2 separate regions of the Homo sapiens genome follow, and region 1 is linked to region 2. A link means that fine-mapping ties the variant in region 2 to the expression of a gene that starts in the linked region. Tissue or cell type: whole blood. Region 2 holds a variant in brackets; the other region holds the start of a gene. All regions are shown on one strand. Distances are from middle to middle.

Region 1 (8,107 bases), 24 kb after region 2:
CCAAAAAATTTAAAAATAAAACTATCATGTGATCCAGCCATCCCACTACAGGGTATATATCCAAAGGAAATAAAATCACTATTTTTTCTTTTATTGAAATTAAAAAAAATCTTTTTATAGAGATGGGGTCTTGCTATGTTGACCAGGCTGGTGTTGAACTCCTGGCTTCAAGCAATCCTTCCATCTTGGCCTCCCAAAGTGCTAGGATTACAGGCGCGAGCCACCGTGTCCAGCCAAAATCACTATTTTTAAGAGGTATCTGCACTCCCATCTTTATTGCAGCATTATTCACAATAGCCAAGATATGAAATCAACCTAAGTGTCCATCAATGAACAACTGAATAAAGAAAATGTGGGGCTGGGCACTGTGGCTCACGCCGGTAATCCCAGCACTTTGGGAGGCTGAGGCAGGTGGATCACGAGGTCAGGGGTTCAAGACCAGCCTGGCCAAGACAGTGAAACCCCGTCTCTACTAAAAATACAAAAATTAGCCAGGTGCAGTGACAGGCGCCTGTAATCCCAGCTACTCGGGAGGCTGAGGCAGGAGAATAGGGGTGGGGTGGAGGTCGGGGGGGTTGGGGCAGAGGGTGGAGATTGCAGTAAGCCCAGATTGCACCACTGTACTCCAGCCTTGGTGACAGACTCCATGTCAAAAAAATAAAATAAAATGTGGTATATATATACGGTGGAACATTATTCAGCCTTAAAAAATAAGGAAATTCTGTCTTTTGTGACAACATGGATGAACCTGGGGACATTATGTTAAGTGAAATAAACCAGACACAGAAATATACCACAAGATCTCATATATATGGAATTTAAAAATGTTGAACTCATAGAAGTAGTGGGTAGAATGGTGGTTGCCAGGGGTAAGGGGTGGCGGAGAGAGAAAAAGAACAAAAAGTAAGATGTGCTCAAAAGGTAATGGAGGCATGTCAAATGGACTCAGGAGTCTGCTGGAAGGGGCTCACACCAGCCAAGGCGGGGACACCTGGAGCACAGAAATGAATAGTGGCAGTAATGAACTATAACATGTTGGAAAAAAATGAGTCCAAAGTCATACTAACCAATATAAAGAAAGAAAGAAAAAGATGGAACGCTATTAGTTGCAGTAAAATTCAACTAATACATACAGAGGAATAGAAGTATAATATCATCGAACAATAATTGATTCAGCAAGAATCCTAAATCTGTGCTTGAATGAAAGTTTTTGAGGAGGATATATACACAGACAAATAATCTCTCTACAGATAAAATTCATCTGGAATTAATTTTGGATGTCTAGTGTGAAGTGAGAATCTAAAATGATTTCTTTTGCAAAAACAGTAGCCCAGTTTTCAATCTCTTTTCCACAGAAATTAAACTGTAAGCTAATATAGATATTAGACGGTAAGCTTCTTGAGGACATGGACTGTGTAATGTTCACATATATTTTTATTTTTTAGGCTAGTCAAGTGAAGCAGTGGGATACGTTCATAATTCTATCCTTAGTGTAGTGCTTCTATAACTAACACACTGCAGGTTAAATTAGGGACTCAAAAATATTTGCGGAGTGCACTTTTTTTTTTTTTTTTTAAACCATAGATGGAGTTTCTACATACACTGCAGTCGTCGTGGCTGGGCAATTTATTCTTTTCATATGATCTCTGTACCTATTTCATACTTTATTGTAGGTTTATGAAATATTAACATAGGGTGATAATTACGAGGGCCTTTTTTGCTTATCTTAAATTTTTAAAAAAAATTTTTTTAAAGGAAGGCAGAGACTTGAGCATCTTTATGGGCTGAGGAGGCAGAGTCATTGGAAAAGGGGAGGTTGCAGATACGGTGCAAGCTCCCAGACAGGAGAGGGTGAATTGGGGGCCAAAAGGATTGAGCTGGGGAAGAAGAGGCCCCTTCCTCAGAGAGATGAGGGAGAAAGGCAGACCAGGGCAGATGTGGATGTAGGTAAATGTTGTGGTGTGTGGGGAATTAGCTTGTTAAGGGTCACGCCCAGATACCTTGGGATTTTTCACGTGGGTATAAAATATGATTCTCTGATGAGAATGATGGTCAAGGTAATGTGGGGGTCGTGGTGGTGGTCTGACGCAGCAGTAATAAGGAATGGGAGAAGCTGACTACAGACTCCCAGAAAGATTGCTGAAGGGCCCAGCTGAGGATGGTGACTGGGATTTGCACTGGACTCAACCTGCAGGTTTCGATGGTGCTTTCCAACTCCAGGAAAACTGGGCTGGGATTTGACAAAACTCTTGAGGAAAAGGACTCACAGAATTTAAAACTGCATTTCCCTTTAGGTTTCGTCTGCTTTCCATCCTCCCCTACCAAGCCCCACAACTGCGGCGAGCATGTTTTCTGCAGTTAACTGCACTGCGCTCTCAGCAGGACAGAAATGACGAATAACTCTAGCCAAGCTGAACAAGATAGGGCTTGGGCTTGGTAACTTTATTTGCATCAGCATTTGCAACACAACACCTAAATGAAAAAATTAACTATAAAGCCGACATCACTTACTCTGGGTCAGGGAACTGTGCCATTCGCTTTAAGTGCATTTACTTAATCTCAAAAAAGTATTAAGAAGTGAGTCCTTTTATTAATCCGACTTTACACACCAGAGGTCTAAGGCCTAAATAAATGAGCAATTTGCTTAAGATCATATGGCTGGTTATTGGTGGAGTCATGCAAGTCTGGAAACAGAGTCATCGCTAACTCCGGTTCAGTGCTACACGAGTGAACTGTCTACAACAAAGCAATAACATATTATGAGTGCCCACAGTATCGAACACATACGGTAACCGCAGTCCAGCCAGCACCCCTGCAGTGCCCAGAGCACCAAGCACCCATCCGTTGACCCCGCATGCGTGACGCTCACGCGCGCAGTCCCCCTGGCTTCTTCCAGGAAGGCTGAAGCGGCCTAATCTCGGCCAAAAGATCAGGACGACTCGATCTGGGCTGGACTCCTTCTGCCTGAGCATCTGATCCGAGCGTCGGCCGGGCTGGGAGGAGCCGGCCCCCGGGAAAGATTTCGGACTGGGGGACAGGAAAACAGAGGGCGGAGTCTTGGGGGGGGGAAGCGAGAAGCCGCATCAACCATGTAAGCAGCTTCGCTTCCTGCCGCAACCGTCCGCGGCCTGAGGAGCCCACCGCCGCTCTCGGGGGCCGACTTCCGGGGGCTGAGCCGTTGAAGCGGAGGCTGGGGCGGGGGGCAGCCGGCGCGGCCGGGGCAGGAGGCGCAGGTAAGGGAGGGGGCCTGGAGCTTGGCCGGCTGGGGCTCAGCATGGGAAGGAGGCCGGTATGGGGAGCTCCAGGGCCAGAGCTGAGGTGAAAGTGAGAACCAGGGCTCCGCAGTCGGGGGCTAGGGCCTGGCTGCCGGCTGAGCAAGGAAGGGCAGAGAATCTGGCTTTAGAATTAGCTTGTCCTCCCTATTCCCCGGCTGCCTTGTCTGGCGAGTGGGGACGGAAGCCGGGTGGGGCCCTTGAGATTTCCTTGGAAACATTTGAAGTTCCTTTGCCTCTCTCTCGACCCTTACGCCTGAACTTAATTAGGAGGGGAAGAGTACAGTTACTTTTCCCTCTGAGTGCATGAGTTCTGAGTTTGTCAGAGGCGCATCCGTAGGCTGGAAAAGAAAGTTCATGAGCTGCAGAAACGATACCAACCGTGGGGGTTCAAATAAGTGTTTGTCTTTTTAAATGCTTGCCTCTGCTATTTGAGACGATTCCATTTCAACTTAGGTTTTGGAGTTTCTTGAGGAGGAGCATTATTTCCCAATTAGTGTTTACCCTTTGCTTAGAATGTTCCCAACAAAAGGATGAGAATGGAATGTGTTGGAAACTTTTAGGACTTAGGGGTTTTCTGCCCAATCAGAGGTTATTCCTAAGACAGTCAAGAAATATAAGAAGTGCTAGAATTCTGTATAAAGCAAGTTATTCGTGTGTATCTGATGTGTATACATGATTCATTATCTACTATTGACGCAGTGCATCCTGTGTTGTAAAATATGTCCAGTGTTGACAATAGAGGTAGTCGCTTGGTATAATGTACTTATTTCTGATTTATTTGAGCCCCTTTTTTGGCACTCCAAAACTCCCACTCTGTCAGTTTTCTTACAAAAAATGTTCTTTCTTTTGTGTTTGTGACAAAGATTGTGTAGGTTAAATCTCTTCTGTGGAGCAAGGCTAATTTCCTGTGTTCTCCCTTTTTCTGCTTTCTGGATCCTGCTCTGGTTTTCCTTTAAGCGTGTTGGTCAAAAATTGAACAAGAAATCTTTGTTGATAGAAGCTAACATTTCCAATATTCAGCTTTCCTAAATTATTACATTGCCAGTTTTTTTTTTTTTTTTTTTTGAGAGACAGAGTCTCGCTCTGTCCCCCAGGTTGGAGTGCAGTGGCGCGATCTCCTCCGACTGCAACCTCCGCCTCCCAGGGTTCAGGCGATTCTCCTGCCTCAGCCTCCTGAGTAGCTAGATTGCAGGCGCGCGACACCACACTCGGCTAATTTTTGTATTTTTAGGGGAGACGGGGTTTCACCATGTTAGCGAAGCTGGTTTTGAATTCCTGACCTCAGGCGATTCACCCGCCTCGGCCTCCCAAGGTGCTGGGATTACAGGCGTGAGCCACCGGGCGGGGGTCTCCCTCCCTCGCCCAGGCTGGAGTGAAGTGGTGTGATCTCGGCTTACTGCAGTCTCCGCCTCCCAGGCTCAAGGGATTCTCCTGCCTCGGCCTCCCAAAGTGCTGGGATCACAGGTGTGAGCAGCCACGTCCGGCCTTTACTGACTGGCTTCTGATAGTTTGTAGTAGGTCTGCATATATTAGTAGCCTTAATTAGAAATGGTGAAGTATTGGTGATATATCAGAAGGCTTTGGGTAGGTAGGTTAATAGGACTGATTACCACTCAGGAAAGAGTCCTAATTTATATTTTAAAGCGTTGTTAAGCTGCTAAAGAGTGAGAGTTATAAGATAATTTTTTCAGGGCCCTAGTGTCATTATGTAATTATTAGGGTTAACTATATGATTGGGTTTATATTTCAGAGACTACACTTGCTAAGTGTTTTCATGGGAATTTTTATCTTCTTATTTCCAAAGCCGAGTATAATTTTTGTGTAGATAACCTTTAGAAGTAATTCTAAGACTCTTTAGGCAGAATGTCATCTCTGCCTCTGACATTACTTGTGTCAAAGTAGAATGTAGGCTGTTTTCCAGGGGTGGTTGTTACGGCCATCACATTATCGTTTCTCTCCAGAGCTCTTTTTTTTTTTTTTTTTTTTTTCCCTAAATAAAATAGAGATGAAGTCTCGCTATGTTGACTAGGCTGGTCTGGAACTCCTGGCCTCAAGCGATCCTCCCGTCTCAGCCTCCTAAAGTGCTGGGATTACAGACATGAGGCCACAGTGCCTGGCCTCTTTTTTTTTTTAATATAAAAAAAACACAAACTTTTTTTTGAGTGTATACTTATTCAGTTATCAGCTTACTTCCCAACACTTTTTGCTGAATTGTCATGACACTTCAGAAGGATTGTTGATGATTATTCTCAGTGGAAGATATTAGAAACCTTCCTTCCCCTTCTTCTTCCTTTTCTCCTTCCTCTTTCCTTCCCCTTCCTCTTCCTCTTTTTCTTCCCCCCCCAATAAACATGTATTGCCAAAATTCTGTTTAAGTCAGTGGTTTCATTTCTGCCTTAATTTATTAATTAAATTATTGATCAGACAAAGCCTTAAGTAGTTAGAGAACGCGGATAGGCTAAAAGGGAAGTGTGAAGAGCTACAAAAGTAATTTTGATTTAGGTAATACTTTTGGGGTGAGACTTGGGGTATAGTGACAGTTCTACTAATGTCTGTGTGACCCCCAAGAAAGTTGTTTTAGGTTCAGAGTACCTTGGTTGCCTCAAAGGTAAAATGTCATAAAGCCAGCTGTGTGTGCCTTCCAGGATTGTAAGAGTAAAATGAGATGGTAGCTATGATTTTGAATGTGAAAAGCATTTTACCGAGACTGTAATGTCCTCTTTGTAAAGTGGAGACTAGATTATAAACTATAGTATATATATTGTTTTCTCCAAGGGAGGAACCTTGTCTTTATTTTGAAACAGTAGGTAGCCTCCTGGTGGCTGGAACATGCTTCTGCCTGCAGGGGGCCCATTGTCTGGGCCCTAGGGATCTACAGAGCTCAGTAGGCTTAGGAAGTGTTTCAGGAAGGCCTCCTAGTTGATGCTGTCCTCATGTCCTGCCAGAACAGTCTCCATCTCCTCCTCAGCCATCTTCCCTCCCAGGGTGGTGAGGACTTGTCTGAGCTCTGCTCCCGTGACTTTGCTGTTCCCCTCCTTGACTAACACATGAAGCCCCTCCAGGTAGTCCTCATATGTGCCTTGGTTCTGCTTCTTGGCTGCTGCCTGGAGCATGGGCAGGAAAGTCTTGAAGTCCACATGCCGGGACTTCAGGTCATCACTCTTGGGGTTCCCCAGGACCTTCATCACCTTGGCACTGGTGAGGTTCTGGTCCAGGGCCCCCATCATGTCCCCAAACTGGCTGTATGGGATCTTGCCATCCCCCACTCAGTTAAACAGCTTGAAGGCCACCTTGAACTCCTCCAGCTGATCCTTGTTAAACTTGATCACCACTTTGGAGAGATCAACTGGGGGCTCCTTGGTTTTCTCAGGGGCCTGGGGGATGGGATAGCTGGCTCAGCTTTGGTCTTGGCTGGAGGGGCCCATGCTGCTGCTGGCTTGGCAGCACCTTTGGAGATGGAGGGCCCTGCTGGTTCCTCCCAGAATATCCTTGGGAGGCATGATGTCTGGTGGCCAAAGGACAGTGTGCGGATGGGGGCACCCATCTCTTGCAGGGTCCGTGTCTGGGCCAGACTACAGTATTTTTTTTTTTTTTTTTTTTTTGTGGATGGAGTTTTGCTCTTATTGCCCAGGCTGGAGTGCAGTGGCGTGATCGGCTCGCTGTAACCTCCGCCTCCTGGGTTCCAGCGATTCTCCTGCCTCAGCCTCCTGAGTAGCTGGGATTACAGGTACCCGCCACCATGTCCAGCTAATTTTTGTATTTTTGGTAGAGATGGGGTTTCACCATGTTGGCCAGGCTGGTCTCGAACTCCTGACTTCAGGTGATCCGTCCACTTCGGCCTCCCAAAGTGCTGGGATTATAGGTGTGAGCCACCGTGCCTGGACCAGTCTACATTATTTTAATGATTAGAGTTATCCATGGTTCTTCTCTTTGAAATATAAATCAATATGGCAGAAAATAGTACTTTTCTGTAACTTCCATCTGGTGATGTGGTTAGCTTTATTGCTTTGGTTGAAATATGATTTTTTGGTTATTTAGAAACAAAGCCCTTTAAGAAGATCTTCATCTTAATGTCTATGAATTGAGGCTTAAAGGGAGGAAAAACCAGGTTCATGTGTTTAGGAGCAAAGATAGTGGGGAACAACTTGTTGATTTGAGTAGTTGTCATAGGTCATGAAGTGTAGCTTGAGGTAATTGTTAAAGTTTTGTAGACATGTCATTAGAGAATGACTTTCATGTCCTCGTCTTAGAAATATAATGATTTTTATATTACTTTTTAAAATATAAAAGTTGAGGCCAGGCATGGTGGCTCATGCCTGTAATCCCAGCACTTTGGGAGGCTGAGGCGGGTGGATTACCTGAAGTCAGGAGTTGGAGACCAGCCTGGCCAACATGGTGAAACCCCATCTCTACTGAAAATACAAAAAATTAACTGGGCGTGGTGACTGCGCACCTATAGTCCCAGCTACTCAGGAGGCTGAGGCAGGAGGATCACTTGAACCTGGGAGGTGGAGGTTGCAGTGAGCCAGGATCACGCCACTGCACTCCAGTCTGGGCGACAGAGCAAGACTCCATCTCCAAAAAAAAAAAAAAAAAGTTGAAATAAGGAAAATAAGACTGAAGAATTTATGTGTGTGTTGTATAACTAGCTTCCCCCCATAACTTTAAAAAGCTGTTGTGTATCCCTTCTTCCGAAACATCTTAAAATGAAAGAGCTAGAAATGATGTGAAAATGCTTATTTTTCTTCTGCCTGCTCACATTAATGCTTTACCTCCAAATTTTTATTAATTTAAATCTTTTCTATAATTTGAATAGTAATGTTTAAAATTGA
Region 2 (8,107 bases):
CTCTCTGTAACCTATGTTCTCCCACAAAACAGAAAAGCAAATATTGTATATTTTAAGAAGCATATTCAAATAGATCTTACTAGTAGAACAAATCAGCTACTTGGTGATGACTTTGCACACAAAACACTGAGCAGCCAAGGGAACACATCTGGGCTGCTTTGGAGAGCACTCTCTGGTGAGAAATCAATGTAAACACCATCTTACCAATGGGATTGGTGGACGTCTCCTGTCCTTTCTGGTACATGCGGTAGTGACGGGTTACAGTCCCGTGGGCAGCCTCTGCTTCTACTGTCTTGCCATCTGGACAAACCAGCACGCTGGTCATCATGCCGAGAGAGCCATACCCTGTAAGTAGTGGAGCATGAAGCGTTGGGTCCAACTGCATGAAGAGCACTGAGTCTCTCAGAGATGAGAGCATAAATGACTCAATCTTGATAGGTCTTGGTAAGCAAAGTAAACAAGAGCACATGGAATCACCAATAATTCTGCCTTTCAGAAGGCAGGATCCCCGCTCCAGATATCAGAGCCAATGGGTCTGGAAAGGCTGCATTTTCCCCTCACTTATTTCAGGGATACCTACTCCTTGATGGAGGGTTCAGGGTCCAACTGCCTACATTCCACTCTAGTTCTATGACTTCATAGCTACTGCGGCTCAGTTTTCTTATCTGTAAAATGGGAGTAATAACAGCACCTACTTCACTAGGTTGCTGTGGGATTAGATAAATATACATATATTCATAAATATATATGAATATATATTTATATTCCTTAGAATAGTACTGGACACAGAGCTCAATCTATTATTGTTATTCTTATGTGCAATGCTCTGCTGTTCTGGGGAAATAAAGATGGACGAGAGCTGTCTCTTAAGAACCCTCAAGCTGCTCATACACTTGCTGGGACTGGGAAGAGAAGGCAGGTAAACACAGGATCGGTTGGATCTAAGAACATCCCAGTTGCCCTTCCTCGCTCTCTTTCATACCCTCAGTACAACAGTTCTCTTCTGTGGTTTCTTATTGAAAGAACCACATTACAACTCTTATATCTATATAATTGATTTTCTTCTTTTCTCCATTTTTGCTACCTCCCAACATCACCTGTGAAGTTAATAATCAACCACGGAGTCATCACAAAGCAATAACACTCCTTCCTCTGTTGCATTCAGTACAAATGATTGTGAGGATGTAGAGAAACAGAAGGATGGTAAGGAGAGTTGTGTAACTCATTTATCTGGCAAAAAGTTATCTTTAACCAGGTTGATCTACTGATTTTCAAACTGAGAGGAGATGTTTAACACTGATAAGAGACAGAAAAAGTAGTACTTCTTGGGAAAAACAAACATAATTAAAGTTAACAAACATTCATCTGGGGAGATTCAAGTTCATACAGCTACCAAGGGCAACTGAAACTGAAGGGCAACTTGGTGCTGAGGAAACCAGGCGCTGTGTTTCTGTTGATTTGGCCCTTACCCCATGCATGAAACTTCTCCTGGAATTTCTGTAAACAGCCCCTAGGGTTCTTTGCTCAATTGATTTGTGTGTAAGCTAAGCAGTAAACAAAAACACTTTTTCTTTGTTGTTGTTGAGACAAGAGTCTTGCTCTGTTGCCCAGGCTGGAGTATAGTGGCGTGATCTCAGCTCACTGCAACCTCCGCTTCCCAGGCTCAAGAAATTCTCATGCTTTAGCCTCCTGAGTGCCAGGGACTATAGGCATGCGACCACACCTGGCTAATTTTTTTTTTTTTTTTTTTTTGAAGTAGAGATGGGGTTTTGCTATGTTGGCCAGGCTGGTCTTGAACTCCTGGCCTCAAGTGATCCACTGCCTTGGCCTCTCAAAGTGCTAGGATTACAGGCGTGAGCCACTGTGCCCAGCCAAACACATTTGTTTTATATTCTACCAGAACAGCAGCTGGCAGAGGGACATGAGTAGGTCCTGCTGCCCAATAAATGAGCTTTGCAGGCACCAAAGCTTGGTTATGACATGATCAAGCTCCTCACTTTATCCCTCCTTGCCTGAGTGCCCTGGTTTTTTACATTTTCACCAAAGGACAAGGAGGGCAGGGAAAGGGAGTGATTTTCAGATCAGGTAGGCTTTAAAACTTCAAGGAGTGACACTGGAGCCAGGAGTGTCAATCCACTAATTTACTTCCCATGTGGTCTTGAGTAAATCATTTCTCTAGTCTGAGCTTAATTTCCTTAGCTGTCAGGTAAGACGGTGGACCTGGAGGTTTAACATTCCAAGATTTTACAACAAAGGACTACAAAACTCCCCTTCCCAAATTAGAGAACTACCCTGGAATGACCCTGTTCCTACAGGCCAGGCTCCACCTCTGTACCTTGGGCCACAGAGTCCGACTGCACGTCACCATCATAGTTTTTACAGGCCCAGATGAAGCCTCCCTCTGATTTCATAGCTTGGGCCACCATGTCGTCGATGAGCCTATGCTCATACCAGATCTTTTGAGCTTCAAACTGGGACTTGTACTGCCTGGGAAACAAAAGGTAAAAGAGAATAATAATAAAGAAAATTGATTTTGTTAGGGATATCATCTGCTTGTCCCAAACAGAAGACCGGACACACAAGAAGCAGCATATTTTAGTAGAAGTAGCAGAAACTCAGGAATCTGACAGACATTGGCTCAAATCCTAGCCCAATCATTTTCTAACTGTAAAACTCAATTTGACTATCTGTAGGAACAATTTTACCCACCTTGCAGGGAAGCCGTGAGAATTAAGTGAGACAGTAGAGTATCCCAATGACTACTTCACTTTTCAGTTTTCATTATACTATAGATCAGATTCTTGAGATTCAGCTTATTTTTAAAATACATTTTTGAAAAGACTGTTCTACTTCTTGGTGTCATTCAGGAAACTAAAATATATTCCAGACAGTTTCTGGGCTTGGTATAGATGGGCAGCAGGAGGAGGAATCAAAATGCCTCAGGAACATTTTGGCCTGAACACTTGCACCTAAAGGGAGTTATGCCAATCTTAAATATTAACACATGCTCACCTCCTGTGCTGTGGAAGCCAGTGTTGTTATAAACTTAGACTTAAGTTCAAATGACTCCACTAAAACAGAATTTTAAATTCTTTTTTTTCTTTTCTTTTCTTTTTTTTTTTTTGAGACGGAGTCTCGCTCTGTC[G/A]CCCAGGCTGCAGTGCAGTGGCGTGATTTCGGCTCACTGCAACCTCCGCCTCCCGGGTTCACGCCATTCTCCTGCCTCAGCCTCCCCAGTAACTGGGACTAGAGGCGCCCGCCACCACGCCCGGCTAATTTTTGGTATTTTTAGTAGAGTCAGGGTTTCACCGTGTTAGCCAGGATGGTCTCGATCTCCTGACCTCGTGATCCGCCCGCCTCGGCCTCCCAAAGTGCTGGGATTACAGGCATGAGCCACCGTGCCTGGCCAACAGAATTTTAAATTCTAACAATGGGCTTCAGAAAGAATGGAAATGGGTCTGACTTAGAAACTCACACATGAAAAATTAGAACTTATCACTAACAGCGTACGTTTATTTAAACATTAAAGAACCTGGCTCTGAAAACAATTCATGTGGGGACCTTATTTAAGAACATGTTTATCTTATAAAAGCAAGTCAGAGTGGTTTTGTTTCACTCCTGCTAAACCTCAGTTTTGCCCTTATCTTTAAGAGACAGTGATGATTTTCACTCAATTTACCCAGAATCATAGGGATAGGGAGATACATACTCTATATGCAAATGTCAGCTTACTTGAGAATAAAGAAAAAGTTAAAAAAGAACTATAGTTACTTGTCATATATCTCCTGAAAGATGTCTTTAAAACGCCCATCATATTTCTTCAGAATAGTGTTTTTGGTGCTCAGATACAAAGGCCAACCCTTAGACAGAGCCATTTGGAAGGAACTGTGTGCAAAATCTTCAATTGACTTATCTTGATTATACATCCCCATGGCAACACCACCACCTTCTGTAGAGGAGAAGCCAGTGAGAGGAAAAAAGGGAGAAGAATAAATGTAATGTAGTTGTAATAAGGCTAAAATCACCCACCACAACCAAATGACCTACTTCTCAGCTCTCACATCTGAGACTAGATTTCAGAAGTCCCAGACAGGTTTCCAACAAATTTCTGAGGCACATAATGAGAGAAAAGCCAGTTCTAGATAAGGACATTCTAACTTGTTTTGGAAGGACAGCAGAAATGAAAAAACATACAGTCTTTAAAATCCTGAAGATGCAGAAATGCCAAAAACTGATATGAACCAGAAATACATTTAAGAAAAGGCAAATAATTTTGAAACTTCTTTTACATACTGATATGGTTTGGATATTTGTCCCTTCCAAATCTCATGTTGAAATGTGATTCCCAGTGTTGGAGGTGGGGCCCAGTGGGAGGAGATTGGAACATGGGGTTGGATCCCTTATGAATGGCTTAGGACCATCCCCTTTGGTGATTACGTGAGTTCTCGCTCAGTTAATTCACTTGAAATCTGGTTGTTTAAGAGTCTGGGACCTCCCCCTTCTCTTTCTCTTGTTCCCGCTCTTGCCATGTGATACACCTATTGTCTGTTTGCCTTCTGCCAAGATTGGAAGCTTCCTGAGGCCCTCACCAGGAACAGGTGTTGGAGCCAGGCTTGTACAGCCTGCAGAACCATGAGCCAATTAAACCTCTTTTCTTTATAACTTACGCAGCCTCAGGTATTTCTTTATAGCAACGCAAGAATGGACAAACACCCTACCTTTACAATTCCCAACATCTATTTTAAACTTTAGGGGTGTACTCAATCCTCAGTTATTGAGAAAAACTTAAATTTCAAATACTGAATGAAAATTCTTATAATCTCCTGGAGGATACTGAGCACTCCTACTGTAGTTGGTAGAAATAAGTAGAAATAATTATGCTACATGTAATCACTGTGTTTTACAACTATTATTGAACTTTGTTATTACTTAAAGATAGAACTTGAATCCATGCCAATGCTCAGGGTTAACTTGGGTTCAGGGTGAAAGGTGCTGAAGCCTGCAGAACCAGATTCCAACAGATATTATTTGGAAGAGGCAAGAAAAACAAAAGGTAGGTGAGTGTTGGGTATTTTTGTTTGTGTGAGTGCTTTCAACAACTTCAATAGTGAAGGAAAAGGGCCCACTAATTATTTCAACAACTTTTGGGTGGGATTTGCCATCAAAGGTAGCAGGGTAGCTGGGAAAGAAAAGGCAAAAAGCAAATGTTCTACTTTTTCACAGGATAAATACCCAGAAGGGCAAGAAGAAAACTTCAGCAAATATATAAGGAAACCTCTTCCAGATACAAGAGCCCTACCAGAGCAAAGGGCAGGATTATATGCTGGGTGATTTGAGAATATTAATATTTAATGTATATAATTCATGCACAGCAGATTTCTGCCAACCTTCTCTCTGTGCTTTAAGATAAATGCATAATCATCTCCTTGTCTTTGCCTAAAGGCATTTCCAATTAAGTGGGTAACCCTTTTGTGCCTTTATTCATGCCACAGGAAGGTATGGAAGCAAATTACTTCTTTATGTCAAGTTTCGGGTTTTGCAAAAACACTGTAGATTCAGATTATATTTTTAGGCAGTCACATAACTAACAAAAAAAGCAATAAAAATATTATCTAAATCATTTGTTTAAAAAAAAAAGAAGCTTATGCTACAGTCATACATACCTTCAAAGTTATGTACCAGGTATGTCACCTTTTGGGTTCCGTCACTTGGTGTGTAGGTTATCTCTACTTTTCCAGGCCCAGGAACAACAAAATCAGTTGCTCTGTACTGTGTAGAGGGGAAAAAGGTATAAAGAAAAAAAAAATACCCTAGCAGGAATTGTAAGGAGAATATTCATATAATATAGACCTAGAAGACACCTAGACAAATAGGGCAGTATGTCAAACTTCTTTTTTTTTTTTTTTTTTTAGGAGATGGGGATGAAGAGGTCCAGACATTCCCCTAAATCAGTAAATATTTATTAGGTGCCTATACGAGGTATAGGAAAGTTTTCTGAGCACTGATTTGAAGAGGACAGAGAATAACATAAGCCACTTTCCTTTAGGAAGTTTACAACCCTATAAAGACATATATAAGTGAAAAGCAATATAAGAGCTTTCAAATGCCAAAAGAGGGTATTAGACCCCCCCCCCAAAAAAAAAAAAACTATAGGATGACAGAGGAAAAGAGGTGACCATGGAAGGAAGTCAGGGAAGTCTCCCTAGAGGGTGATGATAACAATACTAATTGTAGTACTGAGGTAGCTAATGCTTTGTCCTTACTCTATGCCAGATGCTTTAAATGCTTAACTTGCATAATCTCATTTGATTCTTACATCAGTCTTACAAGGAGGGAACTATGATATAGTAGAAATAATGCATCCAGGGTCAAAGGACTTGAGGTCTCGTCCTTACTTAGGCCATCGGGGCTCGGTCTCTCATGGTATCATTGTTACTAGTGTTATAGGACTTGTTCATATGGAGCAATCAAATCATTCTGGGAGCAGCTACAATGGGATGATGATGATTTTTAGGAAAGGGCTGTTCAAGGACAGGCACCTCCCTCATGGGCCTCAGCTACTCAGTGGAATAATATGCCTGGCATATACTAGACATCCATAAGTCTTTGCTGCATTGTATCTTCTTCAATGAATTGAATCAGATACTTGCAGAGTTAGGTACCAGCAGGTGCCGGCCACATCTATAAGTGTAGAGAAATACTAATAACAACTGGTAAAAGAGCAGTAAGTAACAATAAAGATTAAACACCTACTTTACACAGAACATTTTTGACATATAAAATCCATAAAGTAAATATGGGTGGTAATTTATTACTATTTCTGAAAAGGGAGAAACTGAGGTACCAAAGCACCATAAATGCTTTGTATAGGTTTATGTATATTTAAACAGTCCATGAATCAACCTGAGGTTTGAAATTCTCTTTCTGGACTTTAATAAATAGAATGGCCATTTTTACAAATGACTGATGCCAAAATAATTAAAAAAAAAAAAAAAAAGAGGAAGGCCGGGCATGGTGGCATGCCTGTAATCCCAGCACTTTGGGAGGCGGAGGCGGAGGCGGGCGGATCACAAGGTCAGGAGTTTGAGACCAGCCTGACCAACATGGTGAAACCCCGTCTCTACTAAAAACACAAAAATTAGCCGGGCATGGTAGCATGTGCCTGTAATCCCAGCTACTCAAGAGGCTGAGGCAGGAGAATTGCTTGAACCCGGGAGGCAGAGGTTGCAGTGAGCCAAGATCACACCACTGCACTCCAGCCTGGGCGACAGAGCGAGACTCTGTCTCAAAAACAAAAAACAAAAAGGATATACGCAGAAAAAAGGCACGACTGAACTGGAAAGAATCTAGGGTGATTTTTACAAGATTAGCGAGTTTGCACCACTGCCATCTACCTTCCCTTGCTTGGGCCCCTGGGAGCTATTTCTGAAGGCTTTGGCCAGGATGAAAGGATAGTTTTAGCCACAGAGTGGAACAAAGTTAACTGACCCCTCAAGGACTAAACTGTTTACCCTCAACACACTGTTTTCAATGATGGCTACATTAAAACCTCTGGATTTCAGCATGAGAGATTCCTGTTTTTAAGGTCCTTTTAAGACATAAACTACTTTCTGTGAAAGTCTGAAACCTCAGTTTCAACACTGAACTTTGATTTTGTTTACTTGGCAGTTTTTTTGCTTAATTTGGCAACAAGTGTACTGGTACAGAAGTAAAGAAGCAATACTTTTTTTCCAGGCAGGAAGGAATGCTTTAGTAAGGCTGCTTTCAACTACCGAGTCAGTTTTTTTTTTCTTTTTCTTTTTCGAGACAGGGTCTTGCTCTGTTGCGTAGGCAGTGGTGTGATCATAGCTCATAGCTGTAACCTTGAACTCCTAGGCTTAAGGGATCCTCAGGCCTCAGCCTTCCAAGTAGCTGGGACTATAGGCACATGCCACCCCACTCAGCTTCGCCTACTCACTTTGTATATGAATAAACAAAACTGGCTCTTCCATGAACAATTGACATAATTATTGAAATACTTTTCATTTTTGTAGAGACAGGGTTCTGCTATGTTGTCCAGGCTAGTCTCAAACTCCTGGCCTCAAGCAGTGCTTCCAAATTGGCCTCCAAA

The links. PIP is the estimated chance that this variant, and not a neighbour inherited with it, causes the effect.
Region 1: PIKFYVE starts here. The variant in region 2 is fine-mapped to the expression of PIKFYVE in whole blood (TOPMed, PIP above 0.99).

What each region holds. Positions count from the first base shown.
Region 1 is chr2:208,263,183-208,271,289 of GRCh38, forward strand. It overlaps PIKFYVE (phosphoinositide kinase, FYVE-type zinc finger containing), which reads left to right and starts at 3,073. Exons shown (of 42, transcript NM_015040.4): 1 at 3,073-3,233. It also overlaps the pseudogene MYL6BP1. RefSeq lists enhancers at 2,910-2,959, 6,293-6,794 and a silencer at 3,090-3,359.
Region 2 is chr2:208,239,659-208,247,765 of GRCh38, forward strand. IDH1 (isocitrate dehydrogenase (NADP(+)) 1) reads right to left here. Exons shown (of 10, transcript NM_005896.4): 5 at 5,661-5,766; 6 at 3,769-3,946; 7 at 2,336-2,487; 8 at 205-345. Among named protein-coding and RNA genes, the nearest start is that of IDH1, 11 kb to the right of the region's middle. The variant G/A (reference allele first, on the strand shown) is at 3,146.